4 linked regions of the Homo sapiens genome follow. The protein of the gene in region 2 purifies or fractionates together with the protein of the main gene of each other region. This does not show direct contact. Each region holds a gene or a part of one and is shown on either strand. Other genes may lie near its edges.

What was found. Proteins that work in one complex are often made in the same cells at the same time.
Region 1: the proteins of MEF2A (region 2) and ATF7 purify together in Homo sapiens (affinity purification with mass spectrometry; one large-scale study listed by BioGRID and IntAct). This does not show direct contact.
Region 3: the proteins of MEF2A (region 2) and ZCWPW1 purify together in Homo sapiens (affinity purification with mass spectrometry; one large-scale study listed by BioGRID and IntAct). This does not show direct contact.
Region 4: the proteins of MEF2A (region 2) and REV3L purify together in Homo sapiens (affinity purification with mass spectrometry; one large-scale study listed by BioGRID and IntAct). This does not show direct contact.

What each region holds. Positions count from the first base shown.
Region 1 is NC_000012.12:53,511,223-53,514,968, reverse strand, and holds the end of ATF7 (cyclic AMP-dependent transcription factor ATF-7), read left to right. Parts: 3' UTR 1-2,915; downstream 2,916-3,746. UniProt on the Homo sapiens protein: Stress-responsive chromatin regulator that plays a role in various biological processes including innate immunological memory, adipocyte differentiation or telomerase regulation.
Region 2 is NC_000015.10:99,567,889-99,573,489, reverse strand, and holds part of MEF2A (myocyte-specific enhancer factor 2A), read right to left. Parts: intron 4,550-5,601; exon of another isoform or gene 4,511-4,549; intron 1-4,510. UniProt on the Homo sapiens protein: Transcriptional activator which binds specifically to the MEF2 element, 5'-YTA[AT](4)TAR-3', found in numerous muscle-specific genes. Also involved in the activation of numerous growth factor- and stress-induced genes.
Region 3 is NC_000007.14:100,400,041-100,402,537, reverse strand, and holds the end of ZCWPW1 (zinc finger CW-type PWWP domain protein 1), read left to right. Parts: coding exon 1-22; intron 23-496; coding exon 497-649; intron 650-755; coding exon of another isoform or gene 756-760; exon of another isoform or gene 761-1,201; coding exon 1,202-1,524; 3' UTR 1,525-1,666; downstream 1,667-2,497. UniProt on the Homo sapiens protein: Dual histone methylation reader specific for PRDM9-catalyzed histone marks (H3K4me3 and H3K36me3). Facilitates the repair of PRDM9-induced meiotic double-strand breaks (DSBs). Essential for male fertility and spermatogenesis.
Region 4 is NC_000006.12:111,367,888-111,371,718, forward strand, and holds part of REV3L (DNA polymerase zeta catalytic subunit), read right to left. Parts: intron 142-3,831; coding exon 1-141. UniProt on the Homo sapiens protein: Catalytic subunit of the DNA polymerase zeta complex, an error-prone polymerase specialized in translesion DNA synthesis (TLS). Lacks an intrinsic 3'-5' exonuclease activity and thus has no proofreading function.

The DNA of each region.
Region 1 (3,746 bases), on a different chromosome or scaffold from region 2:
CTCCCTGGGATTTTCTCCTGCTTTAGAGTTTTGTTTCATTTTTTTATTGTCTTGATTTCCCAGTAGCAGCCTTGCCCTAAAGCTTGACTGAGTTTATGGCTCCTAAGGAGCTTTCCTAAGACTCTTGACTATTTTTCTTCCCCCTTCAGTCAAGTGTTTTTACAGTTAAGAATTAATTTGTAACTGCATACATGCCCTGCCAGTCTGTCCCTGTGTTGGGTGGCTAATTTATGTAGCGGGTCTTTTTTATTTCTTAGCCCCCATGACTAATTATCTAGTCCTAACTTCATTTTTATCAGTGGGAAGATGTGTACGGGACCTCAGTGAGGAGCACTGCCAGAACCACAGTAACAAAATGGCACTGAAATAAGGAAGCAGCAGGTCAGAACCCCCTAGATAGTTCTTGAGTTGGTTCTCAGTCTCACTAAGGAGGCAGAATAATTGCTGCCCTGAAACTTCTCTGATAGTCAAAGGTAACTTCACTTACCTTGTTATTGCTACCAGCCATGTGGTCACTCTCCCCAAATCTTTGTCTTCCAGATCCATCTGGACCAGAACCAAACATCATGGAAGGTGTCACTTGGCCCTTCCTAAAGTCCATGGCGTTTCTAGAGGCCTAAGGGAGGACACTTTCAGAAAGGAGCTGAGTGTATGGTGGGTGTCCTGAATTCGTTCATGTGAATACAGGACTCAGGCTTCCCACCCCACTCCAATGTGAGTGCTCGATACACAAGCACTCTAGCTAGCTGCCACGTACCCAAGGCCACAGAGGGAGGGGACAGAACCAGGTCTTCTGGTCTGCTCACTTTCTGCCCCATTCCCCTAACAGAAAGTTTGCTTAGAGTTGAAAAGTCTAAGAAAGCCTCCCACAATACTAGAGAGGCCAACAAAAAAAAAGTCATGCCCCCTTTACTTACTCTTTTGCTGCTGGTTATGCATCTCAAATCTGACTTCCTTAGCCTTCACCTCCCTCCTTGGCCCTAAGCATTAGACCATGTACTCTAAGTAGTGGTTAAAGAGGGACTGAGCAAACTGAACCTCCTCTCGCTCACTTCTCTATCCCTGTTCTGTTGGTTTTGGCTCCTTTCTTGATTCACTGCCCTCTAGCACCACCCATCCTGGTAGATGGAGTGCTTAACCCCAACCGTGCCCTATGTACAGCCTGAACCACCAAACAGACACCAAAAAAATTCTTCCTGTGGTTTCTGGGGCTCCCCTGCTCCACACTGAGAGGCTCCTTAAAGGTGCTAGCCCCTGATACAGCTATCCCCGCCAGTTTTCTCCTTTTTTCATAACTTCCTTCCCATCCCCAAATCATTAATTTTTCATTAATATTGTACATTATATACACAGGAAGGAAATACATTATTTTTTTTAAATTTCATAACCAGCCTGTTTAGATTCCAGTCTTCCTAGCTATATCACATATGCCTTGTTGATATGCTCTTTCTGCTTTCTTTAGACTTAATGTTTGACGGGGGTGGGGGTGTCTGGAAGAACAGGAAAGGTGGGGATCCTAAGGCAGATTAAAGGACTCCCTCCACCCCACTACAGCCTCCCATAACTCTAGTCATCCCTCTCATAGTACAGGACTGATTTCTCTGTGTCTGTTTGTACACACAAATGTGCATACAGACATAAATTCCCCCACCCCATACCAAGGTGGTTACCTAGCAGGAATGAGCGTAGGTGGCTGCTGGCCACCATTACCACCGTCTGCATCAGCTGTGTTGTCTCTCTTTGGGGTAAAGTCCTACCCCAGAATGAGAAAAGGCTGGGGAGAGTAGGGCAGGTTAAAGGAGCTTATGTCCTCTGTAGATGTAGGTTTGTATCATAGCTACTAGGGTTTATTTTTTTAATGGGGGGCTAATAGCACAGAGTTATCTCACCAGCAGTAGCTACTGGTGAGTGATGTTTTAGCTGTAAGAAGTGGCTATGAGCAATAGTTTCACTGACTTTACCTTAGGGCAGTGCCACAGTAATCTGGGAACTTGTTAGAAATACACATTCTCAGGCCCCATCCCAGACTTATTGAATCACAGACTCTGGGGGCAGGGTTTAAAAGCACTCCAAGTGATTCTAATGCACACTAAAGGTTGAGAACCATTTCTTAGGGATAAGCTGGGAAATTTTTACAGGTGTGGAGGATATTTCAAATACATCTTTTGCCTTTGCACTAACATGCTTTCATTTCTTTCAGTCTCTTCCTCCATTCCCTTTAAAGTCTTCCCCATCATATCACTGATCTCAAAAGCTAGATTTGTCTTCATTTTAGTCGTATCCCTAAAACCATGCATTGGTCTGGACAGGAGTTGTCCCATATTCCCTTGCAGACTGGTCACTCCATGTTCTCTGTTACAGTAAGGACCAGCCAAGCTTCAGCTGTCCCATTCCTCCCCCTACAACACACACACCTTTCAGGCAGGGAGGAGATGAGCTTCCAGCCCCAAGAGTGGAGGCTGCCACATCCTAACATAGTATCTATTGAAAAGGAAGCAGTGTGTATCTATGATTATATCTCTGTTCATCTATATATTTTTGACATGTAGCAACACCTCTCCATCTTATCAAGGAACTCAACTCGGTCTGGGTCTCCCCAGTGCCCAGTGGTGGCCTTTGACAGGTAGGAGGATGCAGTGCTGCAGGCTATTTTGTTTTTTGTTACAAAACTGTCTTTTCCCTTTTCCCCTCCACCTGATTCAGCATGATCCCTGTGAGCTGGTTCTCACAATCTCCTGGGACTGGGCTGAGGCAGGGGCTTCGCTCTATTCTCCCTAACCATACTGTCTTCCTTTCCCCCTTGCCACTTAGCAGTTATCCCCCCAGCTATGCCTTCTCCCTCCCTCCCTTGCCCTGGCATATATTGTGCCTTATTTATGCTGCAAATATAACATTAAACTATCAAGTGAACCACTGTTATGTCTGATGCTTCACTCCTCTATCCACAGCCCCCATTGTCCCCTTTTCTGGGAGGTCACTGGCCTTTCATGTCTGTCATCTTCATCACTCCCCCATTTCTTAGGACAGAAGGAACAGGGATTTTTGTCTCTAGTTTTTATACATGGGAGATACAGCCTAGAGAAAGTGGATGATTTCTATAAATTACAAAGTATGACAGAAGGCCCAGGGCAGAGCTCCTGTGGACTGCCTTGGAGACAAGGGCCCTTGGCATCCTGGCAGCAAGTACTCACAGGAAACTTAGTATGTGCTTTATGTGGATGGCGGGTGGGAGAGTTGCTGATGGCAAATGGCCTTTTACTTTTCAGTGTTTTGTTGCCAACCCCCACCCAACCATTAAAAAGTGGCTGTTGTGACCAGGGAGCACACACACAGACAAAGACGGAAAGTATAGCTTTCTATGGTAAGGAGGAGGCTGGTCTGGAAATGAGGGGTAGAGTTTACTTAGAAGCAGGTAAGAAAACCGGGCATGGTGGCTCATGCCTGTAATCCCAGCACTTTGGGAGGCTGAGGCGGGTTGATCACCTGAGGTCAGGAGTTTGAGACCAGCCTGGCCAACATGGAGAAACCCCGTCTCTACTAAAAATACAAAAATTAGCCAGGTGTTGGTGGCGGGCGCCTGTAATCCCAGCTACTCAGGAGGCTGAGGCAGGAGAATCACTTGAACCTGGGAGGCAGAGGTTGCAGTAAGCTAAGATCGTGCCGTTGCACTCCAGCCTGGGCAACAAGAGTGAAACTCCATCTCAAAAAAAGCAGGTAAGAGTTCACAAGAAAAACAGGTAATGCTC
Region 2 (5,601 bases):
ATCTGAGGAAATGCCCCTTGTGCTCCACAGCTCTCAAATTCCTGCCCTTAGAATAATGACCGTATGTTAATAGAAAACACATAAAGTAAGATTATAATTTGGAAAGTACCTTTATGATTTTTAAAGTGTGATTTGGGAAAACTGGTCTGTGGTTGGTTATTTCCGTTGATTAGGACAACTTCTTTTTTTTTTTTTTTTTTTTTGAGACGGAGTCTCGCTGTTGCCCAGGCTGGAGTGCAGTGGCGCGATCTTGGCTCACTGCAGGCTCCGCCTCCCAGGGTTCACGCCATTCTCCTGCCTCAGCCTCCCGCATAGCTGGGACTACTGGTGCCCACCACCACGCCCGGCTAATTTTTTGTATTTTTAGTAGAGATGGGGTTTCACTGTGTTAGCCAGGATGGTCTCGATCTCCTGACCTCGTGAATCGCCCGCCTCGGCCTCCCAAAGTGCTGGGATTACAGGCGTGAGCCACCGCGCCCGGCCGATTAGGACAACTTCTACTCAATTCAACATTTACTGAGAATTCACTATATCTACTATAATAGGTTGGTTGGTAGATACTGAGCACACAAAAGAGCCAGCTGGTCCTTGACATAGCAATTCAGCCTAATAGAAGACAGTGACATCAATTATATTCAAATAATCAAATAATATTCTAAATACCTAACATGGGATTTACTCTACAAATAGTGCATGTATCATGGGCTTTAGAAGCACACAAGAGCAAGAGCAAAAAACTTTTGTCTAGGAGATTAAAACTGGTATCACAGATGACATCTGAGCTAAGACTTAAAGGATAAGTAGTTCAATAACTATAACTATGTGTGCAAGACAGCATTCCAATCATTGGCAAAAAACAGGAACAAAGATACAGAAGCATCAAATATTTACTATCTTCCAAATGCCAGGCGGCATGCTAATGCCTGGGGATACAGCTAAGAGTAAGATGAACAAGGCCTCTGCCTTTATGGAGTTTACATTCAGGTAATGGACAAATACCATAAATAAGCAATAACTAAACAAACCAGGTATACACAAATTACAATTGTCTTGAAGGAAATAATCTGTGTAAGAGAGTAAAATGACAGACTGCAATATTAAATAGGATGGTCAGATTAGGCCTCTGAGTGAGAAGTGAGATTTGGGCCAAACTCCAAAGTGTTTAGCCAAGCCAGACATTTGAAGAATATCCCAAGGAGGGAGTACAGAAAGTGCAAAAGGCCCTAGAAGAAAAAAGGGTGCAGAGGGTTTAAGAAACACTGAGAGGCCTTCGTGGCTGACATGTGATGAATGAGGGGAAGAATGATGAGAAGGAGAAAGCTCATTCAGGGCCATTTAGGCCACAGAATGGAGGACTTGATTTTGAGAGGAATGGGAAGTCACCAGAAGATTTTAAGCAGAGAAATGATATGATCCAATATAGGCTCTTAAAATAATTCTCAGGCTGCTGTGTGAAGAAAAAAAAAAAAAAAAAAACTTCTATGGAGCAAGAAGAAAAAGAAGCAGCCCACTTAGAAAATTACTGCAGTACTTCATGCAAGAGAATGATGGCTTCAAATAAAGAGGTGGCAACGAAGACTAAGAGCAGTGGACTGCTCAAGGCAAATTGTGAAGGTGCAACAGGACGTGGGGATGGATTGGACTTAAGAGAAATGGAAAGAATCAAGAATAATATCTTAAGTTTTTGGCTTGGGTACTGCCATTTATGGATATGGGGAATGCCAGCAGAGACACCAGGGTTTAGGGGTAGGAAGAAGGTTGGGGGAAGAGGGAAAAATAGCTATATTTTACCCACATCATTTATATTATACTTGAGATTCCAACTAGACTTCCAAGTGAATATCAAACTCAAGAGAAGTCTGGGCTGGGAAAATAAAAGTAGTAGTCATCAGTATGAAAACATATGGCCTTTTCAGATTAGCGCTAATAGCTGGCTTTGACTAGGGCATAGAAACTGAAAGGTGATGGCTGAAAATGAGCCTCAAAAGACACGATGGAATCATATTATAAAGTGAGCCATGACTAACAGCAATAGCAGTAGTAGTAACGATAGTAATGGTAGGAGGAAAATTAATGCAGGTTATATACCAGGCACTGCACTTTATAATACACACCTCATTTAATCCTCTCAAAAACTGTATGAAATAATGTTATAATTACTATTTTATACACTAAGCCTCAAAAATCATAAGAACTTGCTGAAGAACACAAAGTGCAAGTAACTAAATAAGAACACAGTAAGAACAGTGGGTATTTTAACTTAGGATGGGAAGTCTGTTGTTGTTGTTGTTGTTTTTTTTTTTTTGGAGATGGAGTCTCATTCTATCACCCAGGCTGGAGTGCAGTGGCACGATCTCGGCTCACTGCAACCTCTGCCTCCTGGGTTCAAGCGATTCTCGTGCCTAAGCCTCCAGAGTGGCGGGATAACAGGTGTGAGCCACTATGCCCGGCTAATTTTTGTATTTTTAGTGGAAACGGGGTTTCACCACGTTGGCCAGGTTGGTCTCAAACTCCCGACCTCAGGTGATCTGCCCGCCTCCACCTCCCAAAGTTCTGGAATTACAGGCATGAGCCACCGCGCCCAGCCAGGAAGTCTGATTTTACAGGCCAATCTTCTATCCCTTACATTACTGCCACTCTATTGATCTCATACGCCTTCAAAAGTTGTTTTTTTTTTTTTCTTTAAGAAGAAATGACATATAGATCTGAATTTTAGAAATATAATTCCAATTTCTATGTAGAAGATGGACAGCTAAGGATGAGGACGAGAGGTGAAACAGGCAAATATAGTATTAGTCAATGCAAGAGCCGCTTGTTTTATTAAGCCCAAAAGTTACAATTTCTTTTACCAGGTCGAATGGGAAGCAGCCCTTTGTTCCAAGTGTCACAAATCATGCCTCAAATGAATCCACGTCAACCTGCACATGCATGCTGCTGGTCACGCAAGTAACAAAGTAAAAATGTCCAGCTCATGCAGTATAAACTTACTGACCACTACTGAAAACCTTTCTCAAGCATATAATTTTAATAATGGTGAGAATTTTTTTAAGTCCATATATTAAAGGTTTTTGTTTTGTTTTTGCTTTGTTTCCTTTTTATGTTTTCATGTTTTCTTGTTTATTTTGTTTTTGAAGTTTGTATTTTTGTGTAAGGAAGTAAAATTAGTATTAATTCAAGACAACCATAAAAAGACATGCCCGGGTTGGTATTTACTAGAAGTTTGATTAATTAATATGTTTTTCACCCATGTTTGTTCCTCTGGCTTTTATCAACATCACTTGTTAAAATAATGATGAAGTAAATTACCTGCCTTCATACACCAATGTTTAAATATGGTATTCCACCTCACAAAGGAGCTAATATTTTTAACTCATATGCTTATGATTTCATCTCGACTAAGATAATTAATAATTAAAATATTAAATTCAGTAAATATCAATTAAATTCTGTAAATATAAATATTATTAAAGTATAAAGCATCTATATAAAAATTTAGTACTTATTAAATAAGTACCAACCTATATCGTGTGCTATGTGTAAGATTTACTAATTAACAAATGGATTTACACTCTTAATTATAATAAACTGGACACAAGGTCCATTTATTATAAGGCACACAGATAAACTATACACGAGAAAATCATTAATTTCACACCAAATCAAAGTATTTTAAAAATTACAGATTAACTAAAGTTACTTTAAAATATTAAAATAACCTTCAATATTAAAATATTTAAAAACTTTTCTTCAGAAATTAAGCTATTTTAAAATACCTATTCAAGGTAGATTACAGAAGTATTCTTCTAACTTTAAATTTCAAATACTATATCTTAGAGACCACTCCCACAGTCAATCCCTAAAAGACAGAATTCACTGAAGATTGGGAAACTATTTATATTTAACTTGAATCTTTAGAAAAATATTTGGGGAGATTATGGAGATTAGAAACAAACTATGGTTGAAGATCAAAATTCTAATGTTTTAAAACAGCCAATTAAGCGTTTTATGTATAATCTGACAATGAATTTAAGATGCTGGGATATTTTATCCAAAACAAACACATTAAGCATTCTCTATTGATACATTATACGAAATCCTTTTGGTCACAAACACTAAACGTATGGGTACTGGGCAGGGTACCTACATAATCTTCAGAGGAAAGAAGAAACAAAAGCCAGAAGGGATGCAGGGAGATCAGGCAATACGCATTTTCGCACATGAAGCTTCACGCAGTGTGTTAGAACTTTTACACTCGCTATCTCATTTAATTCCAACACGGGGCAGGTAGTGTAATTCTATCTCATTTTACAGGAGATATCTCAACTCTGTCAGCAGTGGAGCTGGATCTGAATCAAGATCTGACTACAGAGTCAAGCAGCCTTCCTTTACTGGGGCTTGCAAATCAGCATATGTTAAAAGCATTCTCTTGCACGAGGTTATCCAGCTTAAAGGGTGATCTGATTTCCATATTTACACTTATTATTTAAACATTAGGAGAGAAGGCACTCACTTCTCCATTTACTAAGAATCCACAGATTTTCTTTCTTATCTAGAAAAAAGAAATAGTGATCATTTTTGGTCCACAAATGGTTTTCTCATAGTGTCATCGCATAAAAGAAAACTTCAGCTAGACTTTGAAACATTCATATGTACCATGAGTAACCGGGGTATGGTCTGATGACAACACAGAATATGTGAAATTAGAAATGCCCCCAAATCCAGGCCCATCATCATCGTATATTACACTACATTCTTCTTGCCAGACTAAAAGCAGCAAAGGGAGGAAAAAAGATGGTTTTCCAAACTGACAAGCATGCTATTTTTCAGTAACAAATTTGTTCATGGCTTCTTCCTCCTAAATCAGAACACAAATCTACTGAAAAGATTTAGCTAGACTATTTCAAACTCCAAAATCATATTCTAATAAACATTTCCATAATTTCTTAACCACCCTCAGAATATAATTCAATATTCCTCTTTTTGGTAGCCAATTAATGGATGACACTGCTATTGCTGGAATATTAATAAAATTAATATTAACCCACAATGCATGATGGAAAAGGCAAATTGTAACGAAATTGCTTTGAAAAACATAACATCACCATTTGAAACAACTCAACCTTTTTAAGAGATTATTTCCAACTGCATTTACAAAAAAAAATCCTTGTCACACATACCCATATGAAAACAAACTCTAAGAATACAGAAGGAAATTATTCTCAAACCATAATTCAACATGGTGACATTACAATTATTTCTGGGTGTCAATAAGCTATTTTCCTTCCACTGAACACCCCCCAGAATTTAATTTTTTAAAAAACTTTTGAAGGCAAGTAAAGTGTAATTTTAACACTTTTGTTCTAATATGAAATCAAACCACAATTTTATATATAACCATAGTGTGAATTAAAGGAAATAGGTAAGCAAATAATTGCGTTTAGAGAGGTCACCATTACTTCACAGTCACTGTTTTCACTAAGTAGCTACTGGAACCACACTCTTCAACAAAACTGTTAATCTAGAGTCTACAAACATTCAAATCACCAGTTTTAGCTCTTCAGAGTACTTTTGATTATTGTAACACCATTATCACAACTTTTT
Region 3 (2,497 bases), on a different chromosome or scaffold from region 2:
ACCCAAAAAACCAAGCCAAGAGGTAAGCAGGCCAGCTGGAAATGGAGCACAACCCACAGTTAAGGCAGGGAAGTGGTAGAGAGGGAGTCTGCAGGTAGCTGGACCTCACTGCCCATCTCAGTGCCAGGACCTGAGAAAACAGGCAACACTCACCCATAGTGTCATGGGGAGCTGGAACCCCTTTGCTTCTCTGTACTGAATTATAAAATCTGAGGTGAAAGATGGAAGGTTTTAATTTCTTAGCCAAGAAGGATGGCTTTCTGGAGAAGGTAGACTCTGAGGAGAACTGTAAAGAGAAGAAGATCCAGGGGATAAAAGAAAAAAAGAGAATTGGGGGGAAAAGATGTTGAAAAAGAGCCAGAGGCCACCAGGAAAACTCACTAGATTGCAACTGAGCAGAAGATGTGGGGCAGGGCAGAAACTCAATGTGCAGTGTCCATCTGCCCTTGCCGAGTTGTCGTTTAGAGAGAAATAAACGCATTTCCCTCACGGCTAGGGCTTGGGGGTGATGCAGGCACAGCAGATGGCCGAGGCAGGACACTGCAGAGGAAGATAATGAAGAGATCTCTAGGCAGGAAATCCACAGCTCCTCCTGCACCCAGAATGGGAAGGAAAGAAGGCCAAGGGAATTCAGATTCTGACCAGCCAGGTAAGGCTCAAGGCCTGGGAAAAACTAAGGGGAATGAGGTGCCTGTCAGCATCTCCCCTCCCTGAATCATTTCTTAACCATTTTACAGCTTTTCATTACTTTACAGAATGAATGAAAATTAGAATGAAAGAGCGTCTCGGACTGCACCCAGCACACACTATAGAAACAGAATGATTCCTGATTTGATTTGGCCCAGGGGCAGGAGAATGGTAGAAGAGAAGTAACACTTAATCAGTATTGCCAAGGGCTGGCTAAAGAGATACTTCCATGCCTGCTCCTTTAAATTTTTTTCAATAGCTCTCTCACTGGATATTCCCATTTTAGATATTAGAAAACTGAGGCTCAAAGGATTTAAAAAGTGCTCAAGGCTGGTGACTAGCATAGGGCAGACGGCTTGACTCTCTTTCTGATCCCAAAGTCCATATTCTTTGTATTGAGAAAGGTCATCTTTTCCAGAGATTTCTTGGAAATAGAGATTTAGGAGTTTGACTTATAAAAGGTAAGGACAGGCTGACCTAATAGGACTCTTGGCTTTGTCACCTTCTCATTTAGGCCCTAAGAAAAAATTTAAAGCTCCCCAGAGCAAGGCCTTGGCAGCCAGCTTTTCAGAGGGAAAAGAAGTTAGAACAGTGCCAAAGAACCTGGGCCTATCAGCGTGTAAGGGGGCCTGCCCCTCATCTGCGAAAGAAGAGCCCAGACACCGGGAACCCCTGACCCAGGAGGCTGGAAGTGTCCCCCTTGAGGACGAAGCCTCCAGTGACCTGGACCTGGAGCAACTCATGGAAGATGTTGGGAGAGAGCTGGGGCAGAGCGGGGAGCTGCAGCACAGCAACAGTGATGGCGAGGACTTCCCCGTGGCGCTGTTTGGGAAGTAGCTGGTGCTCCTCTGCTCCCTCTTTTTCTCCCTTCTCTGGGGCGCAGGAGGGAGAAGTTGCTAAGTGCTGGGTCTGTTCATTGGCTATGAGGTTCAAATGTGTGTGGTGCAGTTTCTGTGTTAATAAAGCAGGTTACAGTCGACTGGGTTGGCTGGTCTCTAACTGCCCCCTGTTGGCTGCTCTCCCTCCTCCGTGTCACTGTGGCGCGTCACTGCTTCTAGCGGGAGCCTGCACAGTGCAGGCATCTGGGGAAGGCAGTGAGACCTGAGTCCTAGAGGACTTCAAGAAGGGCAGATCTGGGTTCAAATCCGGGCTCGGCTCCTCACTAGCTACCTCCATGGCCTGGGGAAAAGCATGTTCACCATCCTGGTTCTGCTCTTCATCTTACAGCGAGTGCGTTCTCTACCTTATAGGGTTGTGAATGATGTCAAATGTGATGCTCTCATTGTCACCATAGGGAAGACTGTGATCGGATTTGAGGACAGGCTTTGGGTTTGGGCTGGCTACCAAGGTTTGGGGGCTTATGTTCCCTGGCCCAAGGAAGTCACTAAAAAAAGTACTAGAGGAAGGGTCTTGGGTGTGAGTTCTCTGTTAGAATTCATTTTCAGTGGGAGAGACAGGAGTTGAAGGTGATGTCAGTTTTCTCCTTACATTCAGGTAAGTTTTGGGGGTACTTTTAGTTTTATGGGCCAGGGTTGGGAAGGTGAAGAGGGAGTTGGAGTAGATGGCTCTCTTTCTGTCAGTTCTCTGGCTGGCCTCTGAGTCATCTGTGTGGCCTTGGTTATTGCTGGAAGCTGTGGCCCTTTCTATTGGAAGCGTAGCGTACTCGTAAGAAGGTCATTGTGCAGTCTTATTTTTACTTGTTTCTCTCTGTACTTGAATGGATGCAGATTTTAAAAATAGTTTTGAAGACAATCTTTTTAAATTTGTTACTTTATTGTTAATATATATTTTTAACTAGAGATGGCATCTC
Region 4 (3,831 bases), on a different chromosome or scaffold from region 2:
GACCCTGGCCTTGGATTCTGAGTCATTGCTGAGAATGCTGTTTTCCAAAGACGAAGTCCTTCCAAGGAAAAGTCTCCCTCAAACTCAGCCAGATCATTTGCAAGTCGAGTTTCTACCATGAGGAGCCGTCCACCAATCTCCCTATAATAACATATTTTAGAACAACTGTTTTGTTTCAAAGAGCAATTACCAAAATATTTAACTCCATATCCTAGATAAAGTCCCTTTTGGAGTCTCAAAAATGTCCATGTCTATCTTCCCTGCCCCCTCTATATTGTGCAGGTACATTCTATCTTTAGTCTCAATATGCTTTTCCTCACAGGTATATGACTACTACTTAATTTCCTTTGGAAGGTACCATTAATCTTAGGGAGAGAAGGTATTTTTTGTTTTATTTTAATGCCCCATGAAGCCTTCTGTCCTTCAAGGAGATGACACAAACTTTTCAGATTCCTTTCCTCTCCTAATCTTAAAATAAATTTTCCATTATTACCACATATGAATAAAAACAATGAATTTATCATTCAAATACTATGTCCCTGGATATTATTCATAGCTTCTTCCTATATTCTCCAGTATCTGTAGTTTAACAAAGCCAGTCAATTCAAATGAATCTTCGTACTCTCAAATTCCCTTAAACATTAAAAAAAATACCAACTGAGGTAAATTACTCTAATTCTTTCTTCCCATTCCATGGCAGGGATTAACACTGACATAACTTAGGAGCTGGCAGAGCCCACAGGATGCATGGCTTAAATGTTACCAATGCATGAATATGTGGGAAATCACTAATGAAAACAGTCTGGTTTCATTTCCAATAGTTATAAATATTAAGTGAAACCTCTGTCTTTCTCCAATCCCTTGATACTATTTCTGCTTACTACAGCAACATAAAATAATTCTACTTCTTCATGTTAACTTTATTATGGATATAAAGTTAATTCATAGTTTTTTCAATCACTTCTCTTAGGGCATGATTCCCCAAATGTCCCCATCACTCTCTATGTAAAATCCACTAACTGGATCATGTTTTCAGATTTGAAGCTGAAAGAAGAGCATTAGGGCTACTCTGTCTCCTTTATATGAAAAGACTTAAGCCCCTACTAGTTAACTCCATAACCAGCATCCAGCACTGTCCCTGCATCCACTCTTGGCAATGTGAAAAAACAGAAACAGAATTAATGCTGTTGAAGGAAATGAATACACATACCAAGTGACCATACCCAACTCTAATACTAAGGATAGAGAAGTCATAATGAGGTCAAGAATAAAAAATGGTGAGGTGTCGGGAGGCTGAGGCAGGAGAATGGCGTGAACCAGGGAGGCGGACCTTGCAGTGAGCCGAAATCACGCCACTGCACTCCAACCTGGGTGACAGAGCCAGACTCTGTCTCAAAAAAAAAAAAAAAAAAAAAAAATGGTGAGGTGTGGTGAATTCAGTTTTCTTACATATTGTCAGCAGCATGGTAATTGCTATAACCCACTGGGAAAAAAAATCTCCTAATATGTATCAAGAGCCTTAAATTTTTCAGTAATCCTACTTCTAGGGCTATAAGGAAAAACTCCAAAATACAAGAAATGCTTTAAGAAGAAAATGCTAATATCTTCTTAACATACATAATAATATACATAATATCTATAGTGGCAAAATTGCAAACAACCTTTCTGTCCAATAATATATACATGATGCAACATATGCAGCGATTAAAATATTCAAGAAACTCATTTGGAAAATGTTTACAATATAATGTTAAGTGAAAAATTTGGATATAATACTGTGACTATAGTAAGATCACACTTCACAAAACAAAACAAACTAAAAACTATACTTTTTAAAAAAGAAAACAGAATACACATCAAAATATTATGGTGGCTGTTACTACATGGAAAAATGATGTAATTTTTATTTTTTCTTCTTTCATACTTCCTAAATTTTCTATATTGAATATACAGTTTCATTTTTTTTTTTTGAGACAGTCTTGCTGTGTCACCAGGCTGGAGTGCAGTGGTGCGATCTCAGCTCACTGCAACCTCTGACTCCCTGGTTCAAGTGATTCTCCTGCCTCAGCCTCCCGAGTAGGATTACAGACTCATGCCACCATGCCCAGCTAATTTTTGTATTTTTAGTAGAGATGGGGTTTCACCATGTTGGCCAGGATGGTCTCGATCTCCTGACCTTGTGATCTGCCCACCTTGGCCTCCCAAAGTGCTGGGATTACAGGCGTGAGCCACCGTGCCCGGCCTACAGTTTCATATTTCAAAAATATTTTTCAAAAATGATTATTTTTTATTTTAGCTGCAGGACAAGTGTCAAAGTTGGACAATAACAACAACACAAAGGTAATGACTAGCACATAAAGTTTGGTAACTAAAAGTAAATATACCATAATCACTACTAATAACACCAAAGTCCCCAAAATGATGGAAACTAACGTCTAAAGAACAGATTTCATATGCTCCAGCAGTGAAATAAAGAGTTCCATGTGGGTACTAAACAAAACTGTGTGTTGAAAAGGGGCTGGGAGGTGGACATTTCTACCTTTCACTTCAAGTCATTACAGGAGAGAACTTTTATTCTGCATTTCTGATAACCTTTTCTCACCCCTTTATTAAAAAAATAAATTTTATTGTGTATATTTAAGGTATAAAATATGATATTAGTATATAGTAAAATGGTTCTTACAGTGAAACAAATTAACATATCCATCATTTCACATTCTCAACCCTTTCTTAAATGGATTCCTATAGGAATTATTGTGAATCTGCTGGGTAAAAGCCTGGCATTCACTGTCGTGTTTTTTTAATTTAAACTTTTTTAAAAAGATATTTTAACAGCTTTAGGTTGACAGCAAAATTGAAAGGAAGGTACAGAAGTTTCCCATATATCCCTTGTGCCCCCACACATACATGGCCTCCCTCATTATCACCATCCCCTACCAGAGTGGTACATGTGTTACAATCGATGAACCTATGTTGACACATCATAATTGTCCAAAGTCCACAGATTACATTTGGGTTTGTTCTTGGTGTGGTACTTTCTATGGCTTTGAACAAATGTGTAATATTCATATTGTATCTTTCTTTTTTTTTTTTCCCACTGGAGTCAGGAACATGGTACTGCCACAGGTCAGTGCATACATGCAGTGTGTCCTCTGCTGCTTTTCCTATCTCTTTCCAAGATTTAGACTAAGGCAGGGCCTGCCTTAGCAGTTCCAGCCATCCTCTTCTGCTTCTGAATGGATGGCTGAAATGAACTGCCTGCTCTGCAACTGGTTAAGTATATGAGATCATGGACACAAGGGCAGGAACAAGAGCCATCATTTAAACTTTCTGGATTAAGCCACATTACCCAATTTAGCTTTCATCAGTTATGTCCTAACTTGGTGATGAAAGTGGTATACACCATAACTACTTAACTACTGATAAATAAACCAGTACTCTGATTTCTATTTTGCTATTTGCTGTGTGTGTGCGTGCGCTCACATGTTTGTCTATCAATTCCCTGAAGAGATTTTTTTTTTGAGATAAAGTCTCATTCTATTGCCCAAGCTGGAATGCAGCGGCGTGAACACAGCTCACTGCAGCCTTGACATCCTGGGCTCAAGTGATTCTCCTTCCTTAGCCTCCTGAGTAGCTGGGACCACAGGTGCATGCCACCATGCCCAGCTATCTTTTTTTTTTTTTTTTTCTGAGATGGAGTTTCACTCTTTATTGCCCAGGCAACAAAGTGCAGTGGCGTGATCTCAGCTCACTACAACCTCCACCTCCTGGGTTCAAGTGATTCTCCTGTCTCAGCCTCCTAGGCAGCTGGGATTACAGGCACCTGCCACC